Linked DNA regions of Homo sapiens: region 2 is linked to region 1. Evidence: fine-mapped expression QTL. A gene starts in region 1. The other region holds a variant in brackets. All regions are shown on one strand. Distances are between the middles of the regions.

Region 1 (8,344 bases):
GTTCCCTCCCTGAATCGTAGAGGCCAAGTTACTTTCTTTGACCCTAACTTCATATTCTTCCAACTTTTTTACCTCCTCATTCCCCTACCACCTTCTTTTCTAGGAACTGTGTAGATAATTTCTAGAAGCTGCATTTTCCCCAATCCATTGACTCATTCTGCACTGCACCCCCAGCACTCCCTTGTCATGACTGTACTTTCTTCCTGCACAGGTCAAATCCTGTAGATTCTTCTCATATTCCCTCTCTTTTCCCTTTTCTGACACTTGCCACTGTTGGCCACTCTAGTCTTAAAACTTGCACCTCTCATTACTCCATTCACTGGCTTGACTTCTTCTGCCCATCAAGAAAAGTTGCTCAGAGTTCTCTCCATCACCATCATTGTCTTCTTTCTTTTTTGTGTTCTCTTAAGGCACTCTGAAGCACACCCATTTACTAATAATCCCAATTACCATATTTCTCTTCTGTATTCTGGAATCACACATCCAACAGCATGCTAGATGTTTCTGCCTCGATGTCCCACAAGCATATTGAAAACCTCATGTCCCCACACCTATTAGGATGGCCATTATCAAAAAACCCAGGAAATATCAAGTGTTGGCAAGGATGTGGAGAAATCCGAACCCCTGTGCATTATTAGTAGGAATATAAAATGTTGCAGCCTCTGTAAAAAACAAAACAAAAACAGAGGTCCATCAAGAAGTTAAAAATAGAATTATCATATGATCCAGCAATTCCACTCTGGGTCCATGTACAAAAGAACTGAAAGTAGGATTTGTAGGGAAAGAAAACCATACACCTTTAGGGAATTATTTGAAATCTGTATGTGTCACTTCCAACTATCTTATTCACCCGTGCCTCATCATTTGTCCATAGCTAGCTGCAAGAGGCTTGGAAAAGTAGTCTTTAGCTGTGTGTCTATGAGTTCAGAATAAACCTATTACTACAGAAGAAGAGACAAATAAATATTGAGGCGACCACTAGCACTTACTGGCACAATATTCAACCATGACTTCATGAGTGCCTTGCCCTTTCAGAGAAGATGAAGTATTAATTCACTCAAACTTACCTAATGAATGTATGATTCAGCATGAGATGCAAGGGGTAGAAACAAAAAGTGAGCTTGAGATCAAGATTAATGCAGGTGTTAGTAACTAGGCACTGACCTGGGTTTAAATGGAAGAGCAAGGGCTGTCATCCAACAACTTATTCAACTTAAGCTCCTTAAAATAATTTTCATGCTGACAAGGATACAAACATGTAGGAATATCTTCTTGTTTACTAGTTCAACATTTGAACTTGGGTCTGTCATTGGCCCTTTTACCTACTAGGTTCTACCAGGTTTATGACTCTTCTGCTGCATATTCAAGGTGCCATTATTCACAATAGCTAAAAGGTGGAAGCAGACCAAATGTCCATAGGCAGATGAATGGATAAACAAAATGGTGTAACATACAATGGAATGTTATTCAGCCTCAAAAAGAAAGAAAATTCTGATGCACGTTACAATATAGATTAACTTGGAGGACTTTATGCTAAGTGAAATAAGTCAATCACAACAAAACAAATACTGTATTGTTCCACTTATATGAGGTATCTAGAGTAGTCAACTACTACATTGCCAACAACTAGAGTAGTCAACTCATAGAAACAGAAAGTAGAGTGGAAGTCACCAAGGACTGTGGAGAGGGGGAATGGGGAGTTGTTGTTTAATGGGTACAGGGTTTCAGTTTTGTGAGACAAGAAGTTCAGAGATTGGTTATACAACAATGTGAATGTACTTAATGCCACCAAAATGTACATTTTACAATGGTTAAGATGGTGTGACTTTTATGTTACACTTATCTTGCCATAAGGAAACAAACAAACAAAAATATGTCCCCACTAAACTCTGTATTTATTCCGCAATCTGCTTCTCTTAATGGTTTTTCAAATCTCAATGACTGGCATTCATCAGTCATCCAGACAGAAAGCTGGGTGCTAACCTGAAATTCTCCTTCCGTGTCACCCTCTCTGTCAAACTAATAAGCAAGCCCTTTGGCACTATATTCTTAACGTCTATTCATACTCCCCACTCTGTCCATCTGCTTGTTACGCTTTTCAACTCTCTCACCCAGATTTGCTGCTGATACTATTATTTTCTTAACTGCTCCCTCTGCGCTAAATTGCTCCATTTCAAATTATTTTCCATGTTTTGACTAGAACCATTTTTTTTCTAAAATCCAGATGTGAACAAATTATTTCCATACCCCAAAATACATTAATACTTCCCCACTGGCTGCTACTACTTAGAATGGAAAATAAGGCTCTTGCTGATCTAGCCCATTTCTTTCTTTTCTAATTCCTTGCTCTTATTTCTTCTTGCGCCTTTTTTCATACAATGCACTCCAGCTATAGGAAACCCTTTGTAGTTCCAGAGAACATATTGTACTGTTTTATGCCTCTACGACTTTGTTTATGCTGCACTCTGTGCCTGGACTGCTAAGAATCCTCCTCCCCATCCTGTCCACCTGGTGAACACCTGGGTTTCTTTGAAGGCAAGTCAAAACTCATGCCCTATATGAAGCTTTTTCTGACTTCTTCCTTTTTCTCTTAGAATTTATTTTTCCTCCTTCTTGACTCCTATACAAAAAATTTTAAAAAGTATTTGCTTCTGTAACATTTTATTGCACTTGTTTTACATGTGTGGGTCCCTTTATTTCATCATAATTATTTTGAAATCAGGGCTGTGGTTTAGTTTTCTTTATATCCTTAAAACCCAGACAGTGTTTGGAATACTGTACGTATTTATTAAAAATTGGCTGGATATATTATTATGTGGAATTTTTTTTTTTTTTGAGACAGAGTCTCGCTCTGTCGCCCAGGCTGGAGTGCAGTGGTGCCATCTTGGCTCACTGCAACCTCTCCCTCCTGGGTTCAAGTGATTCTCCTGCCTCAACCTCCCGAGTAGCTGGGATTACAGGTACCTGCCACCATGTCCAGCTATTTTTTGTACTTTTAGTAGAGACGGAGCTTCACCATGTTGGCCAAGCTGGTCTTGAGCCCCTGACCTCAGGTGATCTGCCCACCTCGGCCTCCCAAAGTGTTGGGATTACAGGCATGAGCCACCGCGCCTGGCCATGGATATTAATTGAACATTCATTCAACGAACATTTATTGAACACCTGTTATAAGTGTTGGGGATACCAAGCATCTAGTGCATAATTTAGCAAAACAGATAGTTTAAAGAAAATAGTGTTAATACTTACCCCATGATATGGCAAGTACTTAGCGAATGTATCAATTGAGTGGTTTGATAGGTGGGGGAAGTGAGAGGTGATAGGGTGATAGTGGTGGTGAGTTAGAAAAAGTCTCTCACAGGCAGTACTGTTGGAATGATTATTTTCGGTAAGTTTACCAGGTAAATTCTTTGTGGATTAGGTAATGAATTTTATTAACCATTGCATCTTTGAAGCTTAGCACAGAGATTATACTTAGTAATGTAAGTATATTGGTGGAACAAACAGAACCCATAAAACATTTTGGGTTCAGCCTATTGACTTCATTGTATCGGTACAATTTTTCTCCATGTTGGGAATAGCTGGAGAGAAATTGAGAAATCAAGAAGGATGTTGATGCTTTTTAAAGAGTGTGGATGTATCCTATAGGCAACTGGGCTAGGAGAAGCTTTTAAGCAGGAAAGTTGTAGGACCAACTTTGTTTATTAGGAAGAAAATAGAATTGGAGGGTAAAGAGATCAAAAGTCAGAAAATGTTGGGAGATCATTGCCTGGGTGAGCGATGATGTTGGGTTTTTGTGACAGCAAAAATGGAGAGGAAGGGCTGAATTCTGAGAGTTTTTAAGCCTATAAGATGTAGTGACGATGAGATGAGGGAGGAAAGATGGAGAAAGTGAAAATGAGAACAACAGGGTTTGTTATGAGGCTTGTGGGCGATAACGTATGTGACAGCAATCTATAAACCCAAAATATTGCACACGGTTGTTTTTATTATCTTTTTCTAGTTGCTCTGAGTTTAGATTGAGAAGGTGGCTGTACTTTTGGAGACGTGTTCATATCTAAGGAAGATACCAAATTTCGGATTAGGTTTTTATTTCGGAGACTTTTCAAGGAACATGAGAAGATTATCTGAGAAGATTATCTGCGCAGACAGGCCGAGCGACGGAAAGAACTCAGTTCAGCTCCATCTCAGGAAACACCTGATCTCCACGAGCTTTTGAGGAAGCCCGGAGCCACAGAGCCCCACCCACTTCTTTCCCGACCGCGCCATCCTTCCTCACTCCCGGCCTCCTCTCTAGCCAATCACCGCTCAGTTTAACGTCATCACCGAGCGCCATCAGGGAGCGTGTCAGAGGCCGACCACGTGTACTGTGGAGACTGTCAAAGTCTCCCGGAGCCCAATTTCCGGAAGCGGTGAGTTCTGAAAGAAGTTCCTGCACCGTAGTTTCCCAAGTCTGCGAATCCCCAACCATGAGCGCCTCGGGCGTACTGTCCTTTACCCAGCAAGGATGGGAGCAGGTGCTGGCCAAAGTGAAACGGGCTGTGGTTTACCTGGACGCCGCCTGCGCCGAGAGCCTGCACTGGGGCTGCGGATCCACCCGTCTCCTGGAGGCGGTGGGGGGTCCTGACTGTCACCTGCGAGAGTTCGAGCCCGACGCAATTGGTGGTGGAGCCAAGCAGCCCAAGGCAGTGTTTGTGCTGAGCTGCCTGCTGAAAGGCCGGACCGTGGAGATCCTACGGGACATCATCTGCCGCAGTCACTTCCAGTATTGTGTGGTGGTCACAACCGTGAGCCACGCTGTCCACCTCACAGCTAATCATGTCCCAGCGGCGGCAGCGGCCGAGATGGAGGGGCAGCAGCCGGTGTTCGAGCAGCTGGAGGAGAAGCTGTGTGAATGGATGGGCAACATGAACTACACGGCCGAGGTGTTCCATGTCCCGTTATTGCTTGCCCCTGTTGCTCCCCACTTTGCCTTGACTCCAGCTTTTGCATCCCTTTTCCCACTGCTACCCCAGGATGTGCACCTCCTTAATAGCGCCCGACCGGACAAGAGGAAGCTGGGAAGCCTGGGTGATGTGGACTCCACTACGCTAACCCCAGAGCTGCTGCTGCAGATCAGATGCCTAGTGTCAGGCCTCAGTTCTCTGTGTGAACATTTAGGAGTACGGGAGGAGTGTTTTGCTGTAGGTTCCTTAAGTCAGGTCATCGCTGCGGATCTGGCCAATTATGCCCCTGCAAAGAACAGGAAGAAGACTGCTGCAGGCAGGGCATCAGTGGTTTTTGTGGACAGAACCCTGGATCTCACAGGTAAGTGCATTGCTCTGGAGTTCTTCATTACCATTCCCCACATTGCTGGGACTTTCATTGATTCAGCATATATTTTATTGACCTTTTATTATATATTAGATTGAGGATACAAAGATGAACTAGATGGACACGGTCTCTAATCTCACAGAGTTTATTGTCTAAAGTGGAATACAGACAGGTGAATTAGCAATTACAATAACATTTGTTAAATGCTGTAATGGGTAGAAATGTCATAAATGCCCATTGCCTTGTTAAACAACAACTTTAGCCCAAGATTATGCTGACAGGGAGGAAAACTGTGCACCTGGGAAATTTTATTTTTAGAAATTTACGAATGCCAGTATTCACAACAGTCCTTCATAAGAAGACTCTGGTTTGTTGGAGAAGTGTTAATAGATGACCCAGCGGAAGGAAAACTACTGCACAAGAAAACATAAAATTATTACAGACAATTGAGGTTTAGGAAATGAGTGTTCAAAAGTGAGGCTGAACTTAAATGTTACTAGTAAATGAGATGAAATAGAATTGTAGAAAATATTTTCAAATGTTTATTGATTTATTTTTAGCTCTCATTGTATTAAAGATTAAGTAAATAATCTCAAATTGTAATAATGTATTATTTACACAAAAGAAACAAATGTAATCCTTAAAGCAGATGAAGAAAAGACACTTTCTGATGTTTGATATGTTATTTTCAAAGGTCAACTTTATTGTTCTCTAATTAGGTTGTATAATACTGTTAGTAATATAGCCTAGCCACTTCCAAGTCCAGGGAGAATAATCGGAAAACTGACATTGGTAGGCATTCCCTTTAATCGGTCAGAAAAAAAGTTGAATTAAGTTATAAAAAACGAAATAGGTATATTTGAGTTTTTAATCTTAATAAGATTAATTTTCAGATAAAAAATGGAAAGTAGGCTAAATGGTAATACTGAGATGTAAACTTAATTATGTGACTGGAAAAACCAGGTGTCCAGTCTGTGATTTAAATATATAAGTAATAACTGTAGCATCACAGAGTCCATAGGGGATTAAAAGATAAAACCTGATAAGTAGATGCTTGTTGAGTTTTTTTGTGGATGCTATATATTACTGTTACTTCTATCTCTTTATGCCAAAAATGTAGCAAAGTTGTTTCATAATCAACTGGGAAGTTCACATAATTTTGTACCCTCCCCTAAGACTTCTGTTAGGCAAAACTTAATATCCCACTGTCCAGCATCATAGTAACAGCTCTTTACATCTTCAGTAGGTAATGCTTTTTTTTTTTTTTTTTTGAGACGGAGTCTCTCTCTGTCGCCCAGGCTGGAGTGCAATGGCGCAATCTCGCGAGGCTCACTGCAAGCTCCGCCTCCCGGGTTCACGCCATTCTCCTGCCTCAACCTCCCGAGTAGCTGGGACTACAGGCGCCCGCCACTACGCCGGGCTAACTTTTCGTATTTTTAGTAGAGACGGGGTTTCACCGTGGTCTCGATCTCCTGACCTCGCGTGATCCACCCGCCTCGGCCTCCCAAAGTGCTGGGATTACAGGCGTGAGCCACCGCGCCCTTTTTTTAAACATACAGAATAAATAAGGTGAGCATAACTTCTGCCCTCTAAAAGTTTACAATATAATGTAGTCAAGTATCAATATAACGTAGTCAAGTATGATTTAGAGCCCGGCACAGTGGCTCATGCCTGTAATCCCATCACTTTGGGAGGCTGAGGGGGGCAGACTGCTTGAGCTCAGGAGTTTGAGATCAACCTGGGCAACACAGCAAAACTCAATCTCTACAGAAAATTTAAAAATTAAATAAAAAATGAAAAAACTAGCCAGGTGTGGTGACCTGTAGTCCCAGCCACTCAGGAGGCTAAGGTGGAGGATAACTTGAGCCCAGAAGGCAGAGGTTGCAGTGAACCACCATCACATCCCTGCACTCCAACCTGGGTGACAGAGTCAGATTCTGTCTCAAAAAAGAAAAAAAAAAGAAAAAAAGAATGATTTGCAAAATAAAGACACATAGAAAGACAAAGTTGCCATTTGGCAGCAATCATTTTATAGATTCTCCCTTATCAAGTGTCCAGATCTCCTTCCCCATACTCACTTTTCTCGCTTCTAATATCACTGAGAAAATATAAGCCACTAAACAAATCTGTATTTTCCCATCACCAAATCTACCACCCTTCCTACATCTGTACCCATGTCTTTTTCCTTCCTTCATATTGAAAAGAAATATACTGTCCCTGCCACTAACGCCAACTTTTTCACCTATGTAGACTAAAGCCTCTCTTTTCACTTCTCTCATAGATTTACTGTTTTTCAAATACCCTCTCCCTTTCTTAGATCATCATTTTTTCCTTTTCTCTGTATTTTCACCCAGGGAACATCTTCTGTCTTGACCTCTCATGCTCTTCCAACTTCAATTCCATTTTTTTTTTTGCTTTATTTTATAGCAAACTTGAAAGAGTTGTCTATACTTGTTGTCTCCACAAACATCTGCTCCAATTTTCTCTTGACTCCAGTTAGAGTTTTATTTTCCAATACTTCCCAGAAACTTCCTTTGTTTTATTACCACACTAATTCTACTGAACTTCAAAGCAGCATTTGACACAGGAAAGCATGCAAATAGTTAAAAAACAATTAAAGAAGTATGAAACCTATACAGACAAGCAACCACTTAGGCCAGCTTCTTATATAATCCCTCAAAGCATAACTATGACATATCATTTACTTGCTCAGTATTCAAGTGGCCTCTGATCATACCTCCTGTCAAGTTCCTCACTGTTGTTTTCAAGGCCATACCTGATCTCCCCTCTTACAACATTGGCTACCTTGCCATTGTCAGACATGCTAAGCATGTTCCAGCCTCAGGGCCTTTGCATTTCCTCTGCAGCTCTGCTTGGGATGTTCTTCTTCGAGGTATCCATATGGCTTTCTCCCTCACATCATTCCTGCTCCTCAGAGAGGCCTTCCTGGGTGAACTTCTTTGACACTCTCTTACCCTTACCTGGCTTTATTTGTCATAGCCTTTACTATTCCCTGACACTACTAATTGATCAT
Region 2 (8,344 bases), 230 kb after region 1:
TTCCTCAGTAAATGAAGAGGTGTCCTTTTCATACATCTGCACTTGTGAAAGACAAAATTTCTCAAAATCTTGGCTCTTGTGGGTAGTGACTCGTTGTGTGTTTTGTTTTGTTTTTTTCCTGTCTCAGCCATTTTGGTTTTTGATCAATCTTGTCAAAAGACAAGAGGTTGTTCATCATAGTAATTCAGATGATTGCAGTTACGTAAAGCTGGGTGCACACAATTACCAATTAGAGAGATATATGTATACATTTCCCTTTTTGACCCTATTTCTCTATAAATATATTTCCTCTCATCTTAACTGTTATACCTCTGTGACTGTCATTAGTATACCTGAGTGTTTATGCTTACAAAAATATAGATTATCATTGGCTGTTTTTTTGTGTAAAGTGGCTTATGGAATGTTCTGTCATGTTGTTTATCAAATAAATCACCTTTTAAAAATGTAAATATCTTTAAAGATTAAAAAATTTTTTTTCCAGAATTATACTTTTAGGATTACAATGTTTAGGATTTCAGCTTTAGGGCTTCTGATCTTTTAGGATTTCAACATTAAGGATTAGGGAGTTCAGGACTGTATCTTTTGGGTATATGATTGGCTACCCTCCATTACCATCTTAACTGTTGATAGGATCAAGAAAGTAACCATTTTTGTATACTAAAAATTTAAGTGTGCTAACATCACCCAACTGATAAACAGTAGAGCCTGGAATTGAGCCCAGGTATTGTGGATCTGTAGCCCATGTCTTTAAACATGATATTCTAAACCTGCCACAACCTCACCTGTGGTAACCATTTCATGTATTATATTCTGTAACTCATGTTTGCTTACATATATCGTTTTATGCCGTGCATGCTCAACCATCCCATTATGTTCTTGTATTCTGAACAGAGAATTAATATTCTGGTTAATATGTTAGATATTGCCTATGCTTATTAATCTGTCTGTATTAGCTACTTATAGATCCTGCCATACCTCCCTATTTTTATGAATGCATCCTCTTTAGTTTCTGCATTGTTATAAAGAAATTAAAGTATCACTTCAAGCCATTGAAATCTATTGGTTGCCCAGCTTTCTAAAACAAGGCTAGGAAACTTAAATTTTATTTCAATAATATCTCTTGACGGTGATTGCCCTGTGGATTAAAATTTATATATATATATATATATATTAGCATTTTTGGTGTTCTTTTTATTTTACTCATACTATTTTTCTTTGGACTCAATCACAATAACAGAATTAAAGATCAAAGTGTAAAAGTTAAAGACCAGTACAGATTCAATAATTATTCTTTTCTACATACTGTGTTTAAATGATATCCCTTTTTCTTTTTGTTCTTTTTTTTTATTTTTTTAGTATTTATTGATCATTCTTGGGTGTTTCTCGGAGAGGGGGATTTGGCAGGGTCATAGGACAATAGTGGAGGGAAGGTCAGCAGATAAACATGTGAACAAAGGTCTCTGGTTTTCCTAGGCAGAGGGCCCTGCCGCCTTCCGCAGTGTTTGTGTCCCTGGGTACTTGAGATTAGGGAGTGGTGATGACTCTTAACGAGCATGCTGCCTTCAAGCATCTGTTTAACAAAGCACATCTTGCACCGCCCTTAATCCATTTAACCCTGAGTGGACACAGCACATGTTTCAGAGAGCAGGGGGTTGGGGGCAAGGTTATAGATTAACAGCATCCCAAGGCAGAAGAATTTTTCTTAGTATAGAACAAAATGGAATCTCCTATGTCTAATTCTTTCCAGACAGACACAGTAACAATCCGATCTCTCTTTCTTTTCCCCACACATCCCCCCTTTCTATTCGACAAAACCACCATCGTCATCATGGCCTGTTCTCAATGAGCTGTTGGGTACACCTCCCAGATGGGGTGGCGGCCGGGCAGAGGGGCTCCTCACTTCCCAGATGGGGCGGCCGGGCAGAGGCGCCCCCCACCTCCCAGACGGGGCAGCAGCCGGGCGGGGGCTGCCCCCCACCTCCCGGACGGGGCGGCTGCCGGGCGGAGGGGCTCCTCACTTCCCAGACGGGGCAGCTGCCGGGCAGAGGGGCTCCTCACTTCTCAGACTGGGCGGCCGGTCAGAGACGCTCCTCACCTCCCAGACGGGGTGGCGGCGGGGCAGAGACACTCCTCACTTCCTAGACAGGATGACGGCCGGCAGCCGGGAAGAGGCGCTCCTCACTTCCCAGACTGGGCGGCTGGGCAGAGGGGCTCCTCACATCCCAGACGATGGGCGGCCGGGCAGAGACGCTCCTCACTTCTTGTGGGGCGGGGTGGCGGCCGGGCAGAGGTTGCAATCTCGGCACTTTGGGAGGCCAAGGCAGGCGGCTGGGAGGTGGAGGTTGTAGCCAGCTGAGATCACACCACTGCACTCCAGCCTGGGCAACATTGAGCACTGAGTGAGCGAGACTCCGTCTGCAATCCCGGCACCTCGGGAGGCCGAGGCTGGCAGATCACTTGCGGTCAGGAGCTGGAGACCAGGCCAGCCAACATGGCGAAACCCCGTCTTCCCAAAAAATACAAAAACCAGTCACGCGTGGCGGCGCGCACCTGCAATCCCAGGCACTTGGCAGGCTGAGGCAGGAGAATCAGGCAGGGAGGTTGCAGTGAGCCGAGATGGCGGCAGTACAGTCCAGCCTCGGCTGGGCATCAGAGGGAGACCGTGCAAAGGGGAGACGGAGACGAGAGGGAGGGGGAGGGGGAGGGGGAGAGGGATTTTCTTTCATCTGTTAAATATGTAGTTTACTTTTGACAGTTTCTTTAATTTCTGTATATTCTTCCCTTGTATGGAAAGGCAATACAAATCTCTGACAAAATGAAGCAAAACAAAACAAAAATTTAAGCATACTCAATGGCAGCATACTCTTTTACTTTTATTCTGTTCACTTTTTCATAGATACTTTTGAGGAGATTTCTAGCGTGGTGGGCAAAAATTCACTTTTCTACTCACACAAAATGTCAAGGGTTGGCTCTCTGCTTTTCAATGGTAGGGAGCTGTAAAAAGAAAATTGGTACAGCCAAGTATGTTGATTAGTGTTATGCTTTCTCAGTCATGCTAAGTTCTAAGAGAGTATCAGTTTCAACATACGTTAGTGTTTGCATGGCAGTCACAAGAGAAAACAAAGAAAACCATTTGAATTTTCTTCAGAGAACGAAATCAAAACACTATTTTTAAAGATCTGTGTAAACTTGGAATGTCATCATATAGAGAGGTATATCAAAAAAAGCATAGTGTTTGGATGTAGAAATTCTTGATTTAAAAGTCTGGGCTCTGCTGTCTTTCAGCAGTGAGTGTTAGTGGGCAAATCATCCATCCTTGAACCTTGATATAAACGTAACTGCCCTACTGACCATTCTTGATTTTGCTGAGAATAAAATGATGTTATGTGTGTTAACTAATGTTTGGTCCATCTAGTATTATAAATAGGCTATTTTTCTCCCACCACCATTATGATTTTGATAGCATCTAGCTGTCATATAGGGTAGTGCTTCCCCACCCTTTTCTCATCATGTGCATAGACAATGAGAATGTTTGCATAGTAGATTGAGGTAAGTGGACGAGACTCTTATGAACAAAGGCAACCAGCCCTGGGGGCTCTGGCCAGTCTAGGTCCTACCCAGTTGACCTGTGGACTGAGGTGAAGCAGCAGCTTGGCACACCTCTGACCTATTAGGAGCAAACCAATGCTTTAGGGTATATTGGTCAGATGGCTCTGAATCAGGAAACAAAGGAAAACAAGACTTTAATATTACTTTTTGACACAAAAAACTACTTTGGAAAAATTTGTCTTGCTAAACATGTTTTGTTATTACTCATTGATTTACTCACATTATTACTCATTGATTTTCCCTGTATTTCTATAGTATCTTTAAAGTCCAGGTCAACAAGGGCTAGATCTGTTTAGGCTTAGTGTAAAGCTAGAGAATGAATAACTCAAAGTATCTATGCAGTGGTTCATGATAGAGGCATGATAATACCC[T/A]AAGAACTGTAATTTACATTTATCAAACTCTTATTTTACTGTTGATAATTTGGGACTATCAATTACTATAGCTTTATATGCATTAGGATACCCAGTTGTATACAATGAAAAATTTACCATATTAGCATAACAACTGGGGTTTGTTTTTCTAAGCAAGAAGTCCAGACAGAATTCATGCTCTTTCTGACTTCCTCCTTCACTGTCCTAGGTGTGGTTTTTATCATCATGGTCATGCGCTGGATGCTTCCCCTCCAGGGAGAAGTGTCCATGCTTTGGGAAAGAAGTGAGGAAGGATGAAGGTAAAAGGCATATACTGGCCAAATCTGTCCTTTTTTATTAGGAAAACAACAGCTTTCTTGAAAGCCCCACTCAGAAGACTTGCATCCTTGGCTAGATCTCGGTTTCATGGCAACCTCTGACTGCAAGAGAATCTGATGAGTGTATATTGTAACTGGGTGTATATTTGTCATAAACAAAGTAAGGATTCTGTTAGAAGATAGAAAGTGAAAATGTACATTAGGTAGGAAACTTGTATTTGCTACAATTACAGACTTCTCTAACAGAGGAAATTCTAAGGCAAGATACTGTGAGTTGGAGTGATGCCCAGTGTTTTAATATTACAGTTATAATATTAAAATTTTTTACAGTGTATACTGAAATAATGATCTATTCTGTGCTGGACTTATATCATAAACATTCTCAGATTATCAATATTTATTGACCACATTTATGTACCTAGCATTAGTCTAAGCTCTCTAAGCATTGAAACCCTGGGACAGTGGTAATAGAATGTAGAGGCTCTGAGCACAGGATTCGGAGTCAAGTGGATCTGGGTTCTGGTTTTGACTCTGACTCTTAGTAGTTGTGTGCTGATTTCCATAAACTTGCATGTCTAATAAATGTAGCCCAAATATCTGAATTCAAGTGAAATGTATCTGTAATATGAACTTCTCTTTGGGAGAATTTATTTGCAGATACACTACTAGTTTTTCAAACATGGTTTGGGACAGACAATATGGTATTGTGTCTAAATCTGGAAATGGTAGAGTTAGTTTTCATTGTGTTTTCAGGTTTTCCATGACAATTCTTTCCTTTAATCCATCAAAGTATACTTTTTGGGAGTTTTGTGGATGTCTGGGTTTTTATGGTAGGTAAAAGGAGTCATAAGGCATAATATTATTGTGTTTTATTGATGGAAATGTTCTCAACAATTATCTAGTCTATTCGCTCTGCTCATGAGGACAACAAGGTTAATTGAGGCCACAAAAGGTTATTTGACTTGCCTCAAATCACCAATCATAGCCTGTTCAATGAGGGGATAGGACTAAGGTTTGTGTCTCCCAATTCCCAGTCCAGAATTCCTTTTACTAGACCAGTGATTCCCAACCTTTGGCTTACGGATCCCTGGGAAAACCTAAGACTTAGTGCAAAGGTTTACTGATTCATGTGTGCTTTATGTATCATCCATGAACTAAATATTACTCTCACATATAAATATACAAATATTTGTAGATACAGTTGTGATTTATAAAAGATAAATTTATTTAAAGACAGTGCTGAAGTTGCATAATTTTTTCCCATTTTTCAATTAACAGGTATCAAAAGCATAATTATATTGTGTCTTCATACTTTAAAAATGGTTGAAATCATGGGTTAGCACAGGAATCTCAAACTCAGGTATTTACAGAGGCTAGCAAGAAATATAAATAAGTAAAGTAGGTTAGGTTTTGGGGAAACAACAGTGAAAATGCAATGATAAATGGCAGGGATGTATAGTCTTACTAAAAGGGACAATAGGGAGTGGTGGAGACTGTGTCAAACTGGAGATCCTCTTTTTTTTTTTGAGATGGAGTCTCGCTCTGTTGCCAGGCTGGAGTGCAGTGGTACAATCTTGGCTCACTGCAACCTCTGCCTCCTGGATTCCAGCGATTCTCCTGCCTCAGCCTCCCGAGTAGCTGAGACTACAGGCACGTACCACCATGCCCAGCTAATTTTTCATATTTTTAGTAGAGATGGGGTTTCACCATGTTGGCCAGGATGGTCTCGATCTCTGATCTCTTGACCTTGTGATCCGCCCACCTCGGCCTCCCAAAGTGCTGGGATTATAGGCGTGAGCCACCACGCCTAGCCTGAGATCCTCTTATTTTTGCCAGGGAAGCATGAGTCTGGTATTGCCATCTCTCAAGAAACCAGGAATCTGGATTTTTAAAAATTTGAAATCACCAAAGTTTAAGAAATTGGTTTATTTTCCAAAACATTACATGAGTCAAATAAATCTTATTGGGGGACAGAATTCAGCTTGTGGACTTAACAATTTCCAGTCTTTATTCTAGAGCCCCCGCCTTAGGCATTGATTACAGAGGAATGCTTTTGAATTTCTAACTCTAGAAATTATTAGAAATCTAAAAGATCTCCAGATGGATAAAATGATGCCCTGTACTTTTATCAGAAAGCAAGGGAAAGTACCCAATGATCTCCTTTTTTGATTACTTTTAACTAAAAAAAAAAATTACATTTGTTTACATTTTAATCTGGCTTAAGTTTACTAGTGATGTAGAATAGTTTTTTGGTTTTTTTTTCAAATAGATTCTATAAAGTTACCATTTAAGTGGAAGTAGGCTTCTCATAGAACTCTGTCTATTGAACAGAAAAGGCTGAGAGGCAGTTTTGGGTTAAATACAAGGCAGACATCTCTGGAAACTAAAGCCAGCTAGAACGTCTGATTTACTCCATGAGAAGAGCTTCCCAGCATGAGGAACTGACTGACACTGGGCCTTCTGCATTGGTAGGAATTGCACTAATTGAGCTCTAGGTCTTTAAGAAACTAGAATGTGAAAAGTAAGTTTTATGGAAAAGTGTGAGGCTCTCCTCATGTTCTGTCAAGATGGTATGTTTTCTAGCTACAGCTATATCTGTGCTTCCTTTGCTATTTAATTCCCAAAACTTTGACATAAAATAATGGTATAGAGATTCCTGTTACTCGAATTGGAATAATCAAAAGCTTCACATTTATTTGCATAAAATGTATAAATTACCTTTGTAGTGAACCACGCTTTTTAAAAATTATCATCAACTTTTTAAAAATTTTGATTTTAGTTCTTCTCTAAATTTTTTCTTCTCTATTTTTCTCACCTGTTCATTACCTTGTTTAAATTCAACCATGTATAACAAATGAGGAAAGACAGGTCTGGTTTAAAAAGCACTGTTTTTTTTTTAAATTTTATTTTATTGTGATAAGAACACTTAACATGAGATCTACCCTCTTAAGTTTTGAAGTGTACAATACGGTATTGTTAACCATAGGCACCATGTTGCACAGCAGAATAAGTAGAATAAGTTCTACTCTTTCACCTTACATACCTGAAACTTTATGCCCATTGATTAGCAAGCAACTCCCCAGTTCCCCTCACCCCAGCCCTGGGTAACCATCATTTCACTCTTTGATTCTATGAATTTACCTATACCTCATATAAATGGAATCACACAGTATGTGCCCGTCTGTAACTGGCATATTTCACTTACTGTAATGTCCTCAAGGTTCATCCATGTTGTCACATATTACAGAATTTTCTTCTTTTTTAAGGTTGAATGAATAGTCCATTTTTTCAAAGAGATATTGGCATTCTGGTATTCCCTGAAGCACTATTCATAATTGTCAAGCTATGGAAACAACCTAAATGTTCATTGACAGACAAATGGAAAGCAGTGTTCTTAAAGACATTGGGAAGGTAGGCATAGTCTAGTGAGCTTTCAATTGGGGTTCTCTTACATTCCCCACTAGAAATCTAACAGAGCAGAGTCTTATCAACTGTGAATGAGGAAGGAGTTGAGGATTTGTTTTTCCTTGGGTTGTGGAAGGCAGCTCATGTTAATGTCTTTAGCTCTAGTTTCCAAAGGAAACCATGTATGTATTCTTATCCATAGTAAAACAAGACCACATTCTACAACCAGTAGTAAAAATCTATTTGCAATGATTTGTTTATGTTATCTCTCTTCTTTGGAAAAGTCTGGGTCTAATGTAGACCATATAAAATTATTATTGTTCTTCATGGCTACCACTTAATTATAAAAGCTTTCATCTCCATTAGCACAAGGCATGGACGTTTTGTTTATTATGTTTGAGAAGTTATGTCTTTCAAACAAAGCATTTTTCATACTTAGCCAAGTAATTTTCTCCAGCCTTGTAGAAAGTGAGTCTTCTTTATAACATATGAAGTACTTCCAAACAGAGAATTTTTTTTTTTTTTTTTTTTTTTGAGACGGAGTCTTGCACTGTCGCCCAGGCTGGAGTGCAGTGGCGCGATCTGGGCTCACTGCAAGCTCCGCCTCCCGGGTTCACGCCATTCTCCTGCTTCAGCCTCCCG

Alleles and levels. Alleles are on the strand shown, and positions count from the first base shown. SD is a standard deviation of normalised expression in the study named.
For the expression in tibial nerve of the gene that starts at base 4,347 in region 1, T is the low allele of the variant in region 2 and A is the other (small effect, 0.14 SD a copy in GTEx).

The links. PIP is the estimated chance that this variant, and not a neighbour inherited with it, causes the effect. A credible set is the group of variants that fine-mapping cannot tell apart.
Region 2: its variant is the best candidate, but not a certain one, in a credible set for the expression of SCFD2 in tibial nerve (GTEx, PIP 0.56).

The regions. Positions count from the first base shown.
Region 1 is chr4:53,362,064-53,370,407 of GRCh38, reverse strand. It overlaps SCFD2 (sec1 family domain containing 2), which reads left to right and starts at 4,347. Exons shown (of 9, transcript NM_152540.4): 1 at 4,347-5,304. The coding sequence starts at 4,467. RefSeq lists enhancers at 4,382-4,431, 4,452-4,651, 4,872-4,921.
Region 2 is chr4:53,133,220-53,141,563 of GRCh38, reverse strand. All of the region lies in intron 5 of SCFD2 (sec1 family domain containing 2), which reads left to right. Among named protein-coding and RNA genes, the nearest start is that of SCFD2-AS1, 210 kb to the right of the region's middle. The variant T/A (reference allele first, on the strand shown) is at 3,981.